Homo sapiens: one gene and its partners. The protein of the gene in region 1 interacts with the protein of each later gene in a pairwise test. Each region holds a gene or a part of one and is shown in the gene's direction. Other genes may lie near its edges. The genes, in order: PDCD6, PRR19, MAPK1IP1L and KDR.

The links.
Region 2: the proteins of PDCD6 (region 1) and PRR19 interact in binary tests that used the Homo sapiens proteins (3 or more experiments, as listed by UniProt).
Region 3: the proteins of PDCD6 (region 1) and MAPK1IP1L interact in a two-hybrid assay, tested with the Homo sapiens proteins (one large-scale study listed by BioGRID and IntAct).
Region 4: the proteins of PDCD6 (region 1) and KDR interact in binary tests that used the Homo sapiens proteins (3 or more experiments, as listed by UniProt).

The regions. Positions count from the first base shown.
Region 1 is NC_000005.10:277,865-281,654, forward strand, and holds part of PDCD6 (programmed cell death protein 6), read left to right. Parts: intron 1-3,790. UniProt on the Homo sapiens protein: Calcium sensor that plays a key role in processes such as endoplasmic reticulum (ER)-Golgi vesicular transport, endosomal biogenesis or membrane repair.
Region 2 is NC_000019.10:42,305,065-42,308,445, forward strand, and holds part of PRR19 (proline-rich protein 19), read left to right. Parts: intron 1-1,792; exon of another isoform or gene 1,793-1,859; coding exon of another isoform or gene 1,860-2,009; intron 2,010-3,381. UniProt on the Homo sapiens protein: Promotes meiotic crossing over formation through its interaction with CNTD1 by participating in the crossover differentiation step of crossover-specific recombination intermediates.
Region 3 is NC_000014.9:55,058,065-55,061,854, forward strand, and holds part of MAPK1IP1L (MAPK-interacting and spindle-stabilizing protein-like), read left to right. Parts: intron 1-3,090; exon of another isoform or gene 3,091-3,107; coding exon of another isoform or gene 3,108-3,109; intron 3,110-3,615; coding exon of another isoform or gene 3,616-3,619; coding exon 3,620-3,637; intron 3,638-3,790.
Region 4 is NC_000004.12:55,108,507-55,112,296, reverse strand, and holds part of KDR (vascular endothelial growth factor receptor 2 precursor), read left to right. Parts: intron 1-1,528; coding exon 1,529-1,643; intron 1,644-1,730; coding exon 1,731-1,894; intron 1,895-3,790. UniProt on the Homo sapiens protein: Tyrosine-protein kinase that acts as a cell-surface receptor for VEGFA, VEGFC and VEGFD. Plays an essential role in the regulation of angiogenesis, vascular development, vascular permeability, and embryonic hematopoiesis.

The DNA.
Region 1 (3,790 bases):
AGATAGCGCCACTGCACTCCAGCCTGGGGGGCAGTGAGACTCCATCTCAAAAAAAAAAAAAAAAAAGAATAGAATAACCCTTGTTTAGGTGTTAACAAAATCCAGGCCAGACAAATCTAAACTTTAATCTCATACCCAGTTCCTAGATGAGTCCCTTCTCCAGCTCAGGTTCCGCCTAAGCCTCAGGGTTCCTTACTTGGTGGGCACCACCTGCTCCCTTCCCCACCTTTGTCCTCTTTTTCCTCTGCTGGCTCCTCCGGGGTTGGGTGTGTTCAGAGGCAGAGACAGGCTAAAGGTCTTTGGCTTTTAGGTTCTGTTGGTGGGTGAGTTCCAGATATAGCTTTCTCTTGTAGGATATTTCATTTATTTATCTATTAAAAATATTTATTTAGAACACACCATTCATGTGCCAGACCCTGTCCAGGCACTGGGGATAGGGTGATAAATGAGATCAACAAAAATACCTGCCCACATTAAGCTCCTGTTCTAGGGAAGACAGAAAGAAAATACACGTGTCCTTAGTATATTAGAAGATTCCAAGTACTGTAGAGAAAAATAAAGCAGGCTGGACTCGGTGGCTCATGCTTGTAATCCCAGCACTTTGGGAGGCTGAGGTGGGAGGATTACTTGAGCTCAGGAATTTGAGACCAGCCTGGGCAACATGGCAGATCCTGTCTCTCCCAAAAAAAAAAAAAAAATTTAGCTGGGTATGGTGGCGTGCATCTGTAGTCCCAGCCACTGGGGAGGCTGAGGAGGGAGAATTGCTTCAGCCTAGGAGGTGAAGGTTGCAGTAAACCGAGATCGTGCCATTGCACTCCAGCCTGGGTGACAGAGCCAGACCCTGTCTCAAATAAAACAAAAGGAAAGAAAGAAAATGAAAAAAAGAAAGAGATGGGGCAAGCAGGGGAGAGGGCTGGGGACACAGGGGAGGGTGCTGGGGATGCAGGGGAGGGTGCTGGGGACACAGGAGGGTGCTGGGGATGCGGGGGAGGGTGCTGGGGACACGGGAGGGGCTGGGGACATGGGAGGGGCTAGGGATGCAAGCTTTCCTGAGTTCCCACAGTTCTCTGCCCCTCTCCTGTCTCACGGGGTGTGGGCCACCTGTGGCTTGCGGTTGTTTCGCGCCAAGCTAATATCTTGTTCTTCCCAACAGAGAGGCCCGTTGAGGCTTCTCTGTCCTCCATGGGGAACAGCATTGGCCTAAACCTGCAGACACCATTGCAAAGGGAAGTCAGCTCAGGCAAACCCGCTGGTGAAGAAGAATTCCAGTGTGGGGACACAGAGACTGACATTTCTTGCCATGGGTGATTTAATTTTGGGCCTCAGTTTTTCATTCCCCCCTAAGAGTATGACGCAGCCGCATCCTTGCCAGGGCCGGAGGGAGGGTGGATGGACTTATAGGTGTTGCTTGTGGCTGGGTGACTTGCTTCTGCCAACGAGATTTTCACAGACACGGCACAAGCAGAAGCCTGGAATGTGTGGCACTGCCAGGCCTGCCCTCTTAGGCTCTTGATTTTCCCCACGAGATATGCGTGCCCCAGGGAACGGCGGCTCTGGCTGTGGAATGAGAGGCGTGTGGAGCAGGCATGGTTCCCACCCTCAGCCTAGAGTCAAGGCCAGACTAGATCAGCCTAAGCCCAGCCACGCCACGGGTGCAGCAGTGAAGAGCAAATGCCAACTGTCCATGACAGTGACTTTCAAAGGGGCGTGTCATGTGCCTCATCCCAGCAACAGGGAAGGCATTTCTCTATCAGTCAGTTGGTAAATGATTATTGACAATGTGTGGGAAGGTGGAGTTATTTGAGTAGATTTGGCCTCTATTCTCATGGAGCTTCCTTTCTAGAGGGGAAGGCAGATGATGGATGAATAAATATAAATGATTCTAATAGGTTGGTGCAGCAGTCATTAAAAGTAATGGCAAAAAAAAAAAAAAAAAAAAAAACGAGGAGCCGGTGCTGCAGTTCATTAATAGTAATGGCAAAAACTGCGATGACTTGTGCGCCAACCTAACCCAGTAATCACGGGTGTGCAAAATGTGGCGATGGGCAAGTTCCGAGTGCTAGGAGAGCATCTAGCTTCCCGGAGTCAGGAGACGGGGGTTGGCAACCTAACCAAGGTTAAGTCCAAGGGAGGGGGGTGGGCAGGGAGCGATATTTCAGTGGAGACTCCAAGGACGAATGGTATTTAGAGAGTAAACCCCGATAGAGAGGGTTTGTGTCTGGCACAGAGAAGAGCCTGTGCAAAAGCCAGCGGGGCGAGAGGACACCATGTGTTCATCCACCTGAGGGGCGACCAGCAGGCTGGAGCTCAGCGGGTTGAGAGGAGGATGCAGAGCCCGGGAAAGGCACCCTAGGCAGAGGGCACAGCAGGGCAAAGGCCTGGAGTCAGGCCTGAGCCTGTGTGGTTTGAGGAACGGATAGAGGCCTGTCCGGCAGGAAGGGAACAGCACAGGGGAGAGACCTTAGGCCAGAGCAGAGGGCAGGGCTGTGCTGGGCACTGTGGGCTGTGGATGGTGCTGGCATTTAAGAGGGGAGACCATAGACCAGGGCAGAGGGCAGGGCTGTGCCGGGCACTGTGGGCTGTGGATGGTGCTGGAATTTAAGAGGGGAGACCATAGACCGAAGTAGAGGGCAGGGCTGTGCTGGGCACTGTGGGCTGTGGATGGGAGCTGGCATTTAAGAGGGGAGACCATAAGCCAGGGCAGAGGGGTGGGGAGGGCTGGGCCAGGCACCAGAGTGGAGACCACAGGCCAGGGCAGAGGGCAGGGCTGTGAGGGCACTGTAGGCTGTGGATGGGAGCTGGCATTTAAGAGGGGAGTCCATAGACCAGGGCAGAGGGCAGGGCTGTGAGGGCACTGTAGGCTGTGGATGGGAGCTGGCATTTAAGAGGGGAGTCCATAGACCAGGGCAGAGGGCAGGGCCGTGCTGGGCACTTTGGGCTGTGGATGGGAGCTGGCATTTAAGAGGGGAGACCATAGACCAGGGTAGAGGGCAGGGCCGTGCTGGGCACTTTGGGCTGTGGATGGGAGCTGGCATTTATGCTCAAGTGATGGGAATATGTTAAAAGATTTTAAGGAGGGGAGTAACAGTTGGGATTAATGTGTATTCTGGGAATCTCAACAAAGTAAATTCATAGTTCGAATTTTCATAAGACTTCTGCACAGGCAGAGAGAAATAAGATCGCATCTACAGCTGTGTGGTGATTTTCTTTAAAAATACTACTAAGTTTTTAAACGTGATTTCAAATGGTGTGTTTCTGTTTCACATTGGACATAAGTAGATTGCAAGGCTAATGGAAAGTAGAAAAGTTAACTCATGAACATAAAAGAGACATCGATTTGAAAACAAAACATTTATTCATTTACTTCTGCTGCAGTTTTCTTGACTGCTGAATTTCGTAAGAAGGGATTGGTCAGGGAGGGTCTTGGGGCTGAAGACCTGGAGAGGAGCTGGTGCTATCGCTGTTCAAATCTGAAGGTGGTGGAGATGGAGCCTTGGGGAGGAGCCGGTGCTGCCTTTTAAGTCTATGAGAGTCGTTGAGCTGGAGGTCCAGGGAAGAGCTGGTGCTGCCACTGATGTCTTAGGTTGTGGAGCTGAAGACAGTGAAGGAGCTGGTTTGGCTGTTCTGTGAGGGTCGTGGAGCTGGAGATCCAGGTGGGAGAGGTGTTCTAGTTTGAGGGTCATGCAGATGGAGATCTGTGAGGAGCTGATGTTATTTTAATTGGTGGGTCGTAGAGCTGGAGACCAGGGAGGAACTGGTGTGGTTCTAGTTTGAGGGTTGTGGAGCTGGA
Region 2 (3,381 bases), on another chromosome or scaffold:
TGGGCAAGGTGGTCTGCGCCTGTAGTCCCAGCTACCTGGGAGGCTGAGGCAGGAGAATCGCTTGAACCCGGGAGGTGGAGGTTGCAGTGAGTTCAGACTGTGCCACTGCACTCCAGCCTCAGTGACAGATTTAAATTCCATCTCAAAAAGAAAAGGAAAGAAAAGAAAAGAAAAGAAAAAAGTCTTAATTATGCCTTCAAGTCAGTGATATAAGAGAGAATTTTTTTTTTTTTTGATAGAGTCTCGCTCTGTCGCCTAGGCTGGACTGCAATGGCGCGATCTCGGCTCACTGCAACCTCTGCCTCCCAGGTTCAAGCGATTCTCCTGCCTCAGCCTCCTGAGTAGCTGGGACTACAGGCGTGTGCCACCACGCCCGGCTAATTTTTTGTATTTTTAATAGAGAAGAGGTTTCACTGTGTTAGCCAGGATGGTCTCGATCTCCTGACCTCGTGATCTACCTGCCTTGGCCTCCCAAAGTGCTGGGATTACAGGCGTGAGCCACCATACCCAACCGAGAAAAAAATTTTTAAAAATAAAGTCTTAGAGGATAAGTTGGAGCAGTTCCTGAAGCAAAGCTTAGTGAGAAACAAAGCTTCCAGGCATTCTTCATTCACCAGGCCCATTTCAAGTTAGACATATTGGTCTAGTTTATCCTTCTAGCAACCAAATGAGGAAGGTAGTTTTATTACCAACCCAATTTTACAGGTCAGAAAACTAAGTCTGACCAGTTACAAACATTTCCAAGGTCACACAGCCCAGTTGTGCCATTTTGGGCATTTAAACCAAGCCTAGCTATGAATCACAACACTACACTAACTTTTTTTTGAGATGGAGTCTTTCTCTGTCACCCAGGCTGGAATGCAGTGGTGTGATCTCGGCTCACTGCATCCTCCACTTCCCAGGTTCAAGCAATTCTCCTGCCCCAGCCTGCTGAGTCGCTGAATATACAGTCGTGAGCCAATGCATGTGGCCTAATTTTTGTTCTTTTACAGGGTCTTGCCGTCTCCCTCAGGCGGGCGTGATCATGGCTCACTGCTGCCTCCACCTCCTAGGCTTAAGTGATCCTCCTGCATCAGCCTCCCAAGTAGCTGGGCCCACAGGCAAGAGCCACTGCGCCCAGCTTATTTATTTATTTAGAGACGGAGTCTCGCTCTGTCGCCCAGGCTGAAATGCATCTCGGCTCACTGCAAGCTCCGCCTCCCGGGTTCACGCCATTCTCCTGCCTCAGCCTCCCGAGTAGTTAGGACTACAGGCGCCCGCCACCACGCCCGGCTAATTTTTTGTATTTTTAGTAGAGACGGGGTTTCACCGTGTTAGCCAGGATGGTCTTGATCTCCTGACCTCGTGATCCGCCCACCTCGGCCTCCCAAAGTGCTGGGATTACAGGCGTGAGCCACCACGCCCAAAGCTAATTTATTTTTTGTAGTCAGGGTCTCCCTATGTTGTCCAGGGTGGTCTTGAACTCTTGGGCTCAAGCCAGCCTCCTGCCTCTGCCTCCCAAAGTGCTGGGATTACAGACGTGAGCCACCACGCCCGGCCAACTGTATAAGTTTTCTAGGGATTATGTCTGTGGCTGCTTGGGGGACAGCTGTGCATGGGGGCTACCATGACCCTTCTTCCCTTTGGCACGCCTGGTCTCAACTAGCCCTCGAAAGACCGCTGATAGCTATCTGAACCAATCAGCATTCAGGAAGGGGGCGGACCTAGTGAACCTCACAGCCAATTGAGGGCTGGGAGGTGCTGAGACCAAGAAAGGGAGATTTCTGAAATTGAGGCTGGGAGGGGAGGGGCTATAACCGGCGCTTCCCTGGCACGCGCCGCTAGGTTTCCGTCCTCTCAGAGCCACGAAGCCAAAGGGCATGGAAAGGGCACGCGCATGCGTGTGGGGGAGCCCGAGGCCCGGAACAGCGCCAGGTGACTTCGAGAGCTGGGGTCACCGCGGAAAAGAAGCCATTGCGCCCCACAGCTACGTGAAGTGGGAAGGGCCGGGGTTCGTTGGGGCGAGAGAGGTGCCCTTCCCACACCCTGCTCCTGCCAACCGTACCCCACTCCCTTCACTCTGCCCACCCTGCCCTACCGCGGCTGGCCACCATGCTTCCTCTCCTACCCTAGGCCCTTCCTTTGTGATCAGGCCCTGTCCCTGATCGCGCCTCTGTCTCCCTTCCTGTTCTCTTGAGGTTTTCTCAGGCTTTCCAGACTTCTCTTGCTGCTCTCCCTCTCCTGCTTCTCTTTCTCTACTATCTCTTTCCACTTTCTGCATTCCCCTGTACCTCGTCTACCCCTGGATTTCTCCGTCCAGAATCACTTTCTGGTCCCCCAAATCCCTCCAATCTCATGACCCCTTCACCACCCTCCATCTTTTGTTGTTGTTGTTGTTGTTGTTGTTGTTGAGACAGAGTCTCGTTGTGTCCCCCAGGCTGGAGTGCAGTGGCGCGATCTCGGCTCACTGCAACCTCCGCCTCCCGATTTCAAGCGATTCTCCTGCCTCAGCCTCTTTGAGTAGGTGAGATTACAGTCATTCACCACCACGCCGGCTAATTTTTGTATTTTTAGTAGAGGCGAGGTTTCACATGTTGCCCAGGCTGGTCTCGAACTCCTGACCTCAAATGATCTACCCACCTCGGCCTCCCAAAGTGCTGGGACTACAGGCGTGAGCCACTGCGCCTGGCCCCCACCCTCCATCTTTTTTTTTTTTTTTTTTTTTTTTTTTTGAGATGGAGTCTCGCTCGGTCATCCAGGCTGGAGTGCAGTGGCGCGATCTCGGCCCACTGCAAGCTCCGCCTCCTGGGTTCACGCCATTCTCCTGCCTCAGCCTCCCGAGTAGCTGGGACTACAGGCGCCCGCCACCGCGCCCGGCTAATTTTTGGTATTTTTAGTAGAGATGGGGTTTCACCGTGTTAGCCAGGATGGTCTCCATCTCCTGACCTGGTGATCCGCCCGCCTCGGCCTCCCAAAGTGCTGGGATTACAGGTGTGAGTCACCGCGCCCGGCTCACCCTCCATCTTTTAACTGTTTCCCCATGTCCCTGTTCCTAATAGCCTCTCTCTGTTTCCTGGCTTATCTTCCCATTAGCTGTGACTCCTTCGACTTCATCTTACCCCTGTGATTCCTTATCTGACCAAACCTTTTCCAATCTCTCTCTGCTCACTTATTTTCTCTCATCTTCTCTCTCTCTTTTAAGAGACAAGGTCTCACTCTCTTGCCCAGGCTGGGGCACAGTGATGCAATCATAGCTCAGAGTAACCTCCAACTCCTGGGCTCAAGTGATCCTCCTACCTCAGCTTCCCTAGCAGCTGGGACTACAGGTGTGGGCCACCGAATCCAGCTTTTTTTTTTTTTTTTTTTTTTTTTTGAGATAGAGTCTCACTCTGTCACTCAGGT
Region 3 (3,790 bases), on another chromosome or scaffold:
TTGGGAACCAGCCCTGAACTGGACGCCATCCCAGCACAGGGTGCTCTCACCTACACCCACGCTCACAGACTGGGCCGCGTAGACACATCCATTCATGTGCATCTTTGGGATATGGGAGGAAACTGGAGTACTTGGAGAAGACCCATAAAGATGGGAGAATGAGCCAGCTTCACACAGACAGTGACCTCAGCTGAGACTTTTTGTTTTTTCTTCTCATCAACATTATAACAAAACAAAGTTGAATGAAACGTCTTTCGAGGACCTGCTATAGACTAAAATTTTAAAACCCTGTCCCATATATGAACGAACAATTAGAAAATACAGTAGAAGAAAAGAGCCTATTTACAACCACAGGGAAAAGTTTAACAGAAATCCCTTAAAAGAAATGTATATAGGAGATCTGATCAAGAAAATAAACTACATGAAAAGGACAGGAACTAAACAGTCCTCTGTGTCTGCATTTGCGGGTAGAAAATATTCAGGGAGCCGGGTGCGGTGGCTCATGCCTGTAATCCCAGCACTTTGGGAGGCTGAGGCGGGCGGATCACGTGAGGCCAGGAGTTCAAGAGCAGCCTGGCCAACGTGGTGAAACCCTGTCTCTATTAAAAATACAAAAAATTAGCCGGGCATGGCGGCGCTTGCCTATAATCCCAGTTACTCAGGAGGCTGAGGCAGGAGAATCTCTTGAACCCAGGAGATGGAGGTTGCAGTGAGCTGACATCATGCTATTGCACTCTAGCCTGGGCAACAGAGTGAGACCCTGTCTCAAAAAAAAAAAAATACTTGGGGGAAACAATAAAAATAACCATAGAAAATATAAGTTAATATAATTATATAGTATTCACACTTTTAAGTATTATAAATAATATAGAGATGATTTATACGGGAAGATGTGCATAGGTTATATGCAAATACTACACCATTTTATATCAGGTACTTGAGCATCCTGGGATTTGAGTATCTATGGGGGTCCTAGAACCAATCTCCCTCAGGTACCGAGGGACTATACTATACCTTGTTCTTGAACGAGATGATTTGACATTTTAAATAGATGTTCCCCTAGATTAATCTGTAAATATAATACATTTCCAACCAGAATGCTAACACATTAATTTTTTTTTTTAACGATCTGGAAAAAATAAAAATACATAGGAAAATCTGAAAAAAAAAAAAAAAAAAAAGACAGTAGGGTGACTCACATTAATGTTTATTTAAAATATATTGTAAAGCTTCTGTAATTAAAATGGAATGGTACAGTTGCAGACCAGTAGAAAAGAATAAAGTCAGCTGGGCACAGTATCTCACGCCTGTAATCCCAAGACTTTGGGAGGCCGAGGCAGGCAGATCACTTGAGCTCCGGAGTTCAAGACCAGCCTGGGCAACATGGTGAAACTCCATCTCTACAAAAAAACTAGCTGGGCAGGATCGATTGAGCCCAGAAGGTCGAGTCTGCAGTGAGCTTATGATGGTGCCACTGCACTCTGGCCAGGGAACAAAGCAAGACTGTTTCAAAAAGAAAAGAATAAAGTCCACAATATCTGTGGGAAATGAAGGAGGCTCTATAGCCTGCTTGTTAAGAGCCTAAGTTCTGGAGTCATACTGGGTTTGAACTGCTTCTCTCCTTGTCATTAGCTCTGGGACCTTAAACAAGTTAACTTGCCAAGCTTCCTCTTCTCCAGCTGTAAACTGGGGGTGAAAATAAAATTTGTATCTGGGTTCTGGAGCTACCAAGTGAGGTGGTGCACAGTACACCACCATGTTCCATGTTTCATGGTAAATATTGGATAGATGCTAGTTATAAATGGCAGCAGTATAGTGTAGTAAAGGTAGCTTGTCCAATTAGCTGAGAAAAGATAGATAGTTGATAATTATTGTTTGGAAGAATTTAAAGGTTTTAAACAAGAAGTTAAACCATAAAAATACTATATGAAAGCAAGGCAGAGTAGGGAAGGCCTTTGTAAATATATCACAAAATCCAGAAGCCACGTATAGGAAAACATTGATAGATTTGATGACATGAAATTTAAAACTTTTGTATAACCAAAATATGCCCTTTAAGAGATCTACAGATAAAAGGAATTTTGGAGAAATTTTTTTTTTTTTTTTTTTTTTTTTTTTTTTTTTTGATATGGAGTAGCCCTCCGTTGCCCAGGCTGGAGTGCAGTGGCGCAATCTCGGCTCACTGCAAGCTCCGCCTCCCAGGTTCATGCCATTCTCCTGCCTCAGCCTCCCAAGTAGCTGGGACTACAGGCACCCGCCACCACACTGGGCTAATCGTTTTTTTGTATTTTTAGTAGAGACGGGGTTTCACCGTGTTAGCCAGGATGGTCTCGATCTCTTGACCTCGTGATCCGCCTGCCTCGGCCTCCCAAAGTGCTGGGATTATAGGCGTGAGCCACTGCACCCGGCCAAAAAATTTTAATCTCATATATGAAAGCTAGTCTGCTTAGTATCTTACAAAGCAGTGAGAGAAAAAGATGTGCTACTGAGTAATAAAATGATCAAAGGCAAAGAGTACCTACAGTCTTTTATTTATATAAAGTCAAAGAACAAGCAAAATTAAGTCAAAAATTGACTGCCATGAGGCAAGGTAGTTGATTGGAAAAGAGCATGAGTAAACTTTCTGGAGTGAGAAATGTTCTGTATCTTGGGGTGGTTATAGGGGCGTATACAATTATCAGAGCTTGTTAATCTGAACACTTAAGATCTCTGCATTTTGTTGAGTGCTAATTACACTTCAATTTAAAAATTGGTAAAAGTACTCCAGGACATCAATAAATTTAAATTTGGGAGTACACACAGTGGCTCATGGCTATAATCCCAATACTTTGGGAGGCTGAGGCAGGAGGGTCCTTTGATCCCAGGAGTTTGAGACCGGGTCTGGGCAACATAGTGAGACACCTGTCTCTGCAATAAATTTTTAAAATTTTAAGAAATTTGCTGGGCATGATGGCACACACCTGTAGTACCGGCTATTAGGGAGACTGAGGCAAGAAGATGACTTGAGCCCAGGAGGTCAAGATTGCAGTGAGCTGTGATCTCTCTCGCCACTGCACTCCAGCCTGGGTGACAGAATGAGACCCTGTCTCCAAAAAAAAGACGAGGAAATGTAAGTTAAAATAAGACGCTAATTTTTAATATCTATTGTCATTATAAACAATAAATTTAATAATATCCAGTGGTAAAAGGAGTTAGAGAAATGAGTGTAAATTGGCATGGACTTTTCAAATGGATTTTAGATAAATTTATCTGTTGACTCTAAATTCCATGTCCAGTGCTTTTTCCTGGTGTTAGATTCTCACACACAAACAAAGAAGTGTTGAGAGATGTTCACTGTATCATACTTAAAACAACTTATACTGCTACAAAAAGAAGGTAAATTAAATTGCAAATCATTTTTGTATGATGTGCAGCCATTAAAAGGGATGAAGTTAATAGAGCTGTATGAACTATTATGGAAAACTTTCCTATGTAAAGAAAAACACATTACATAAATAAGATTCCGCTTAAGTAATAATAATGTATGCATAGAAAGTTCCTTAAGGAATATTTAAGAAATGGTGAACACTGATTTTGAAATTTTTCTTTCTTCCTTCATTTCTTTTCTTTTTTTAGGAAAATGTCTGATGAATTTTCGGTAAGTTGATCAGTTTATCTGTGATAAGTTTTTCATCTCTTAAGAAAAACAACATGGTCCTAACTGGGCTACGTAAATCTTTTCACTTAAAAGAGATGCTTTAACCAGGCATGGTGGTGTGCACCTGTAGTCCTAGCTACTTGGGAGGATCCC
Region 4 (3,790 bases), on another chromosome or scaffold:
CTTCATCCTTGTCTTCACGTTGAGTAGGCTGAGGAAAAGGGGGAAGAGGAGGGGGTGGTTTTGCTGTCTCAGGGGTGGCAGAGGTGGAAGAAAATCTGCTTATAAGTGGACTCATGTAGTTCAAGTTTGTGTTATTTAAGGGTCAACTGTAATTGAACTGGAATTAAATTGAACTGGCCTTGAGAAAATCACCTTAATTTTTTGTTTATTCTCTTTCATTTACATAAATGTCTGAGTTTACATGGTAATTTGTGTGGCATCCTACTTATAAGCCTTGGAAAGGATTTTGGAGTTTATATTATGAGAATGCATCAATACAGTGAAATTTTAAAAATACCTTAGATAATGCTATTTATTAGAGTTGTAATCATAAAAGTGGCAACAACTATAACAAGTATGATTTAGTGAGCACTTACTTTATTAGCTCATCTCATCTTTGAAGCTGAGATTGGAACTCAAGTTCCTGACTACAAAGCTATGCTCTTGACCTCTAGGTCACGTGGCATCCCTAGCAAGAACTTGAAAATTTCTTCTGAATGAACAAAATAGAAATCACTAAGTGTCCTAAATTTATTTAAATTATTTCACTTGCCAAGATGCACTTGTCAAAATACACAGAGAGAGATGTGCTCTGGCTTATGTTTTTATAGAATTACTTTTGTTTTCCAGAATACTTCAGGGAAATAGGGGCAGAAATAAGGAGGTCAGTTGGGAGGCTAATTGCAGTTATCCAAGTGAGAGTTGAGGGGTGGCTTAGACAAGGGTAGTTGAGGTGGAGGTAGTGAGAGGTGATCTGCTTCTGGATATATTTTGAAGGTAGAGTCAACAGGGTCCGCTGATCAATTCATTGGTTGTGGAGTATAAGAGAAAAAGAGTGGAAGATGACTCGAGCGTTAGCATGAGCAACTGAGTAAATGATGGTGTTATTTACTGAGATGGCAAAGATCGAGAAGGCAGTGAGATTTAGGGAAACAGTGTTAGATATGTTTATCTGGAGATGCCTGTTAAACATCCAAGTGGAGATATTTAACATATCAACCCGGAACCCAGAGGAGTCAGGGCAGAAGATAACACATTTAGGAGGTACGTGAATGATACTTTAAACCTGAGGCTAGAGGAAGGTGTAAATAAAGAGGAGGTCTGAGGACTGAGTCCTGGGGCCTCATGGTGGAAGAGGTGTGTGGAGGCTGTCATGGGAGCAGAGGAGAAGGAGCACCCAAGCATCCCTGGGGGACTTAGAGAAAGCTGCACAGAGGAGCAAGTGTTTGAGTTGAGACTTGAGCAATCACTAGGCTTGTGGGAGTGCACTAGCGGGGAGAGAAAAGCAAATGCAAACACAGGAGGTGTGGGAGAAACACGGGAGGTGTGGGAGAAGCTGAAAAGTGACCCACTGAAAGATAGTACAGGAAATCTTGGAACTGCAGCTACTCAGACCCTCAAGGTCTTTGACGTTTCACTTGAAATGAAAAACTAAATCAAATGACCATTTACAGTAAGTTGACCTTTTTTTTTTTTTATTTTCTTCCAGAAAAACCTTTTGTTGCTTTTGGAAGTGGCATGGAATCTCTGGTGGAAGCCACGGTGGGGGAGCGTGTCAGAATCCCTGCGAAGTACCTTGGTTACCCACCCCCAGAAATAAAATGGTAACTACTGGAAATAAATGCAAAGCATCATTTCGTGTGAGAGCAAATCCTTTGACTATACTAATTCCTGAGAATTTTTTTTCATAGGTATAAAAATGGAATACCCCTTGAGTCCAATCACACAATTAAAGCGGGGCATGTACTGACGATTATGGAAGTGAGTGAAAGAGACACAGGAAATTACACTGTCATCCTTACCAATCCCATTTCAAAGGAGAAGCAGAGCCATGTGGTCTCTCTGGTTGTGTATGGTGAGTCCATTCAATTTTCCTCTCTGCCCAAGATTTATTATGATACATTGTCTTCCAAATCAGCCAAACCACCGTTCCTCTGCCTCCTGCTGCTTCACTCATATCATGGCTGGGCCTGCGTACAAAAGTCATCTGGCGTGGTGAAGCTGAAGTGAAACGTAGGACCATGTGCTCTGGCCATGTTTGTTTAAGAGGCCGTGTAAATGAGCTTTGTGGTGGACAAATGCAAGATTAAAGTAGTGATACCCTCGATAGCTAAATGTTGTGAAATAAGAATGCCCACAGGGACAGTTGTCAAGCTAAGTTATACTACCATGTTCCCCTCTCATGGAATTGCCCACCTGGTACACAGATGTGTAAGACCCTTCTCCTTAGATTTTGTGCAAAGCTTCTAGTTTGATGTTGTAGTTGATGTATCAGAGATGTGCAGGCACGTTCCAACTCTGAAGGCTTTTGAAGTTGACACTGTTGGCTTGGTTGGGAGCTTTTCTTTTTTCCTTTTTGACAGGAGTTCAGGATCTGATTTTGAGTCTGTAAAGGAAAGATAGTAAGTTTTTGATGTAAAGATAATTTGAACTTTGTTTTCTGAAACTGAAAGGTACAAATAAGTGTTTGGAATGGAGTGGGGAGAAGGGTGCCATGGTCAAGTGAGTGTGAGAGGTGCTAAGGTGATGTGTAGATGTGTAACAGGTTTCTTTATTGCAGGACTTCGCAGAACCTTTTATATGCTAATGTATATTGGTATTCTCCAGGAGGAGAGACATAGAGTATTCAAGGTTTAACAAACCTATTTGACCAGAGCACCTTTTTTCCCCTGAGCAAATTCATTAATCTCTCACTCCAAACAGTTTGAGAAATGCTTCTCTGTTGTAATTCTTTGTTCCCCCTTCTGGTACGGCATATTAAAACTTCAGGATATTTTCCCATGACATTAAGGTGCTTCCCTACGTGTCCTGATACTCTTCTGTAGGCCGCTGAACTTGGCTTTATTATTTTTTTTCAGGGAATATTTTAAAGATAGGCTGGGTGCCGTGGTTTGCATCTGTAATCCCAGCACTTTGGGAGGCCGAGGCGGATGGATCACCTGAGGTCAGGAGTTCGAGACCAGCCTGGCCAACATGATGAAAACCCGTCTCTACTAAAAATATAAAAATTAGCCAGGCATGGTGGTGGGCACCTGTAATCCCAGCTACTTGGGAGGCTGAGGCAGGAGAATCACTTGAACCCAGGAGGTGGAGGTTGCAGATAGCCGAGATCGCACCATTGTACTCCAGCCTGGTGACAAGAGCAAAACTCCGTCTCAAAAAAAAAGTTAACAGGTTCCAAAAAGGTTGTTTAGAAGCAGCATAGGTGTAGGGGACTGGGGAGAGGAGAAACTGGAAAGTGTATAAGTAGGATGGGAGGAGGAAATGAACAGGAAATAAAAACAAAACACGGACAGCAAATAGCCCATTTCATCAGTTCATGAAGCCACTAAATATTTTATTCACTTTAGCAAATTCTCTGCTATATGAAATAAACATAAAAAAGAAGTCAAGTCTTCAAAGCATAATCTGAGGCTTTAGGTTGACAGTAATAAGGAAATAGTTTTGACTTTGGAGTCAAAAAAGAAAGAAAGGAAAAAGGGAGAGAAGAAAGAAGGAAGTGAGAGAAGGGAGAAGGAAGAAAGGGGAAGAGGGAAAGGGAGTGGAGAGGGAGGGAGGGAGGAAGAGGGAGAGAGAATGAAAAACTCAGATGATGGTGGCAGGAATGCATTCTCTAAAGATTTACACCTTCCTTTAACATGAGGTGGTTTACGTGTTTGGGTTCAGAAGTCAGAGTGTCTAGGTTTGTTCCAGGTTTTGCCGTTCGTTAACTGAGTGACCTTGGGCGAGTCATTTTTTTCTGTTTCATTTT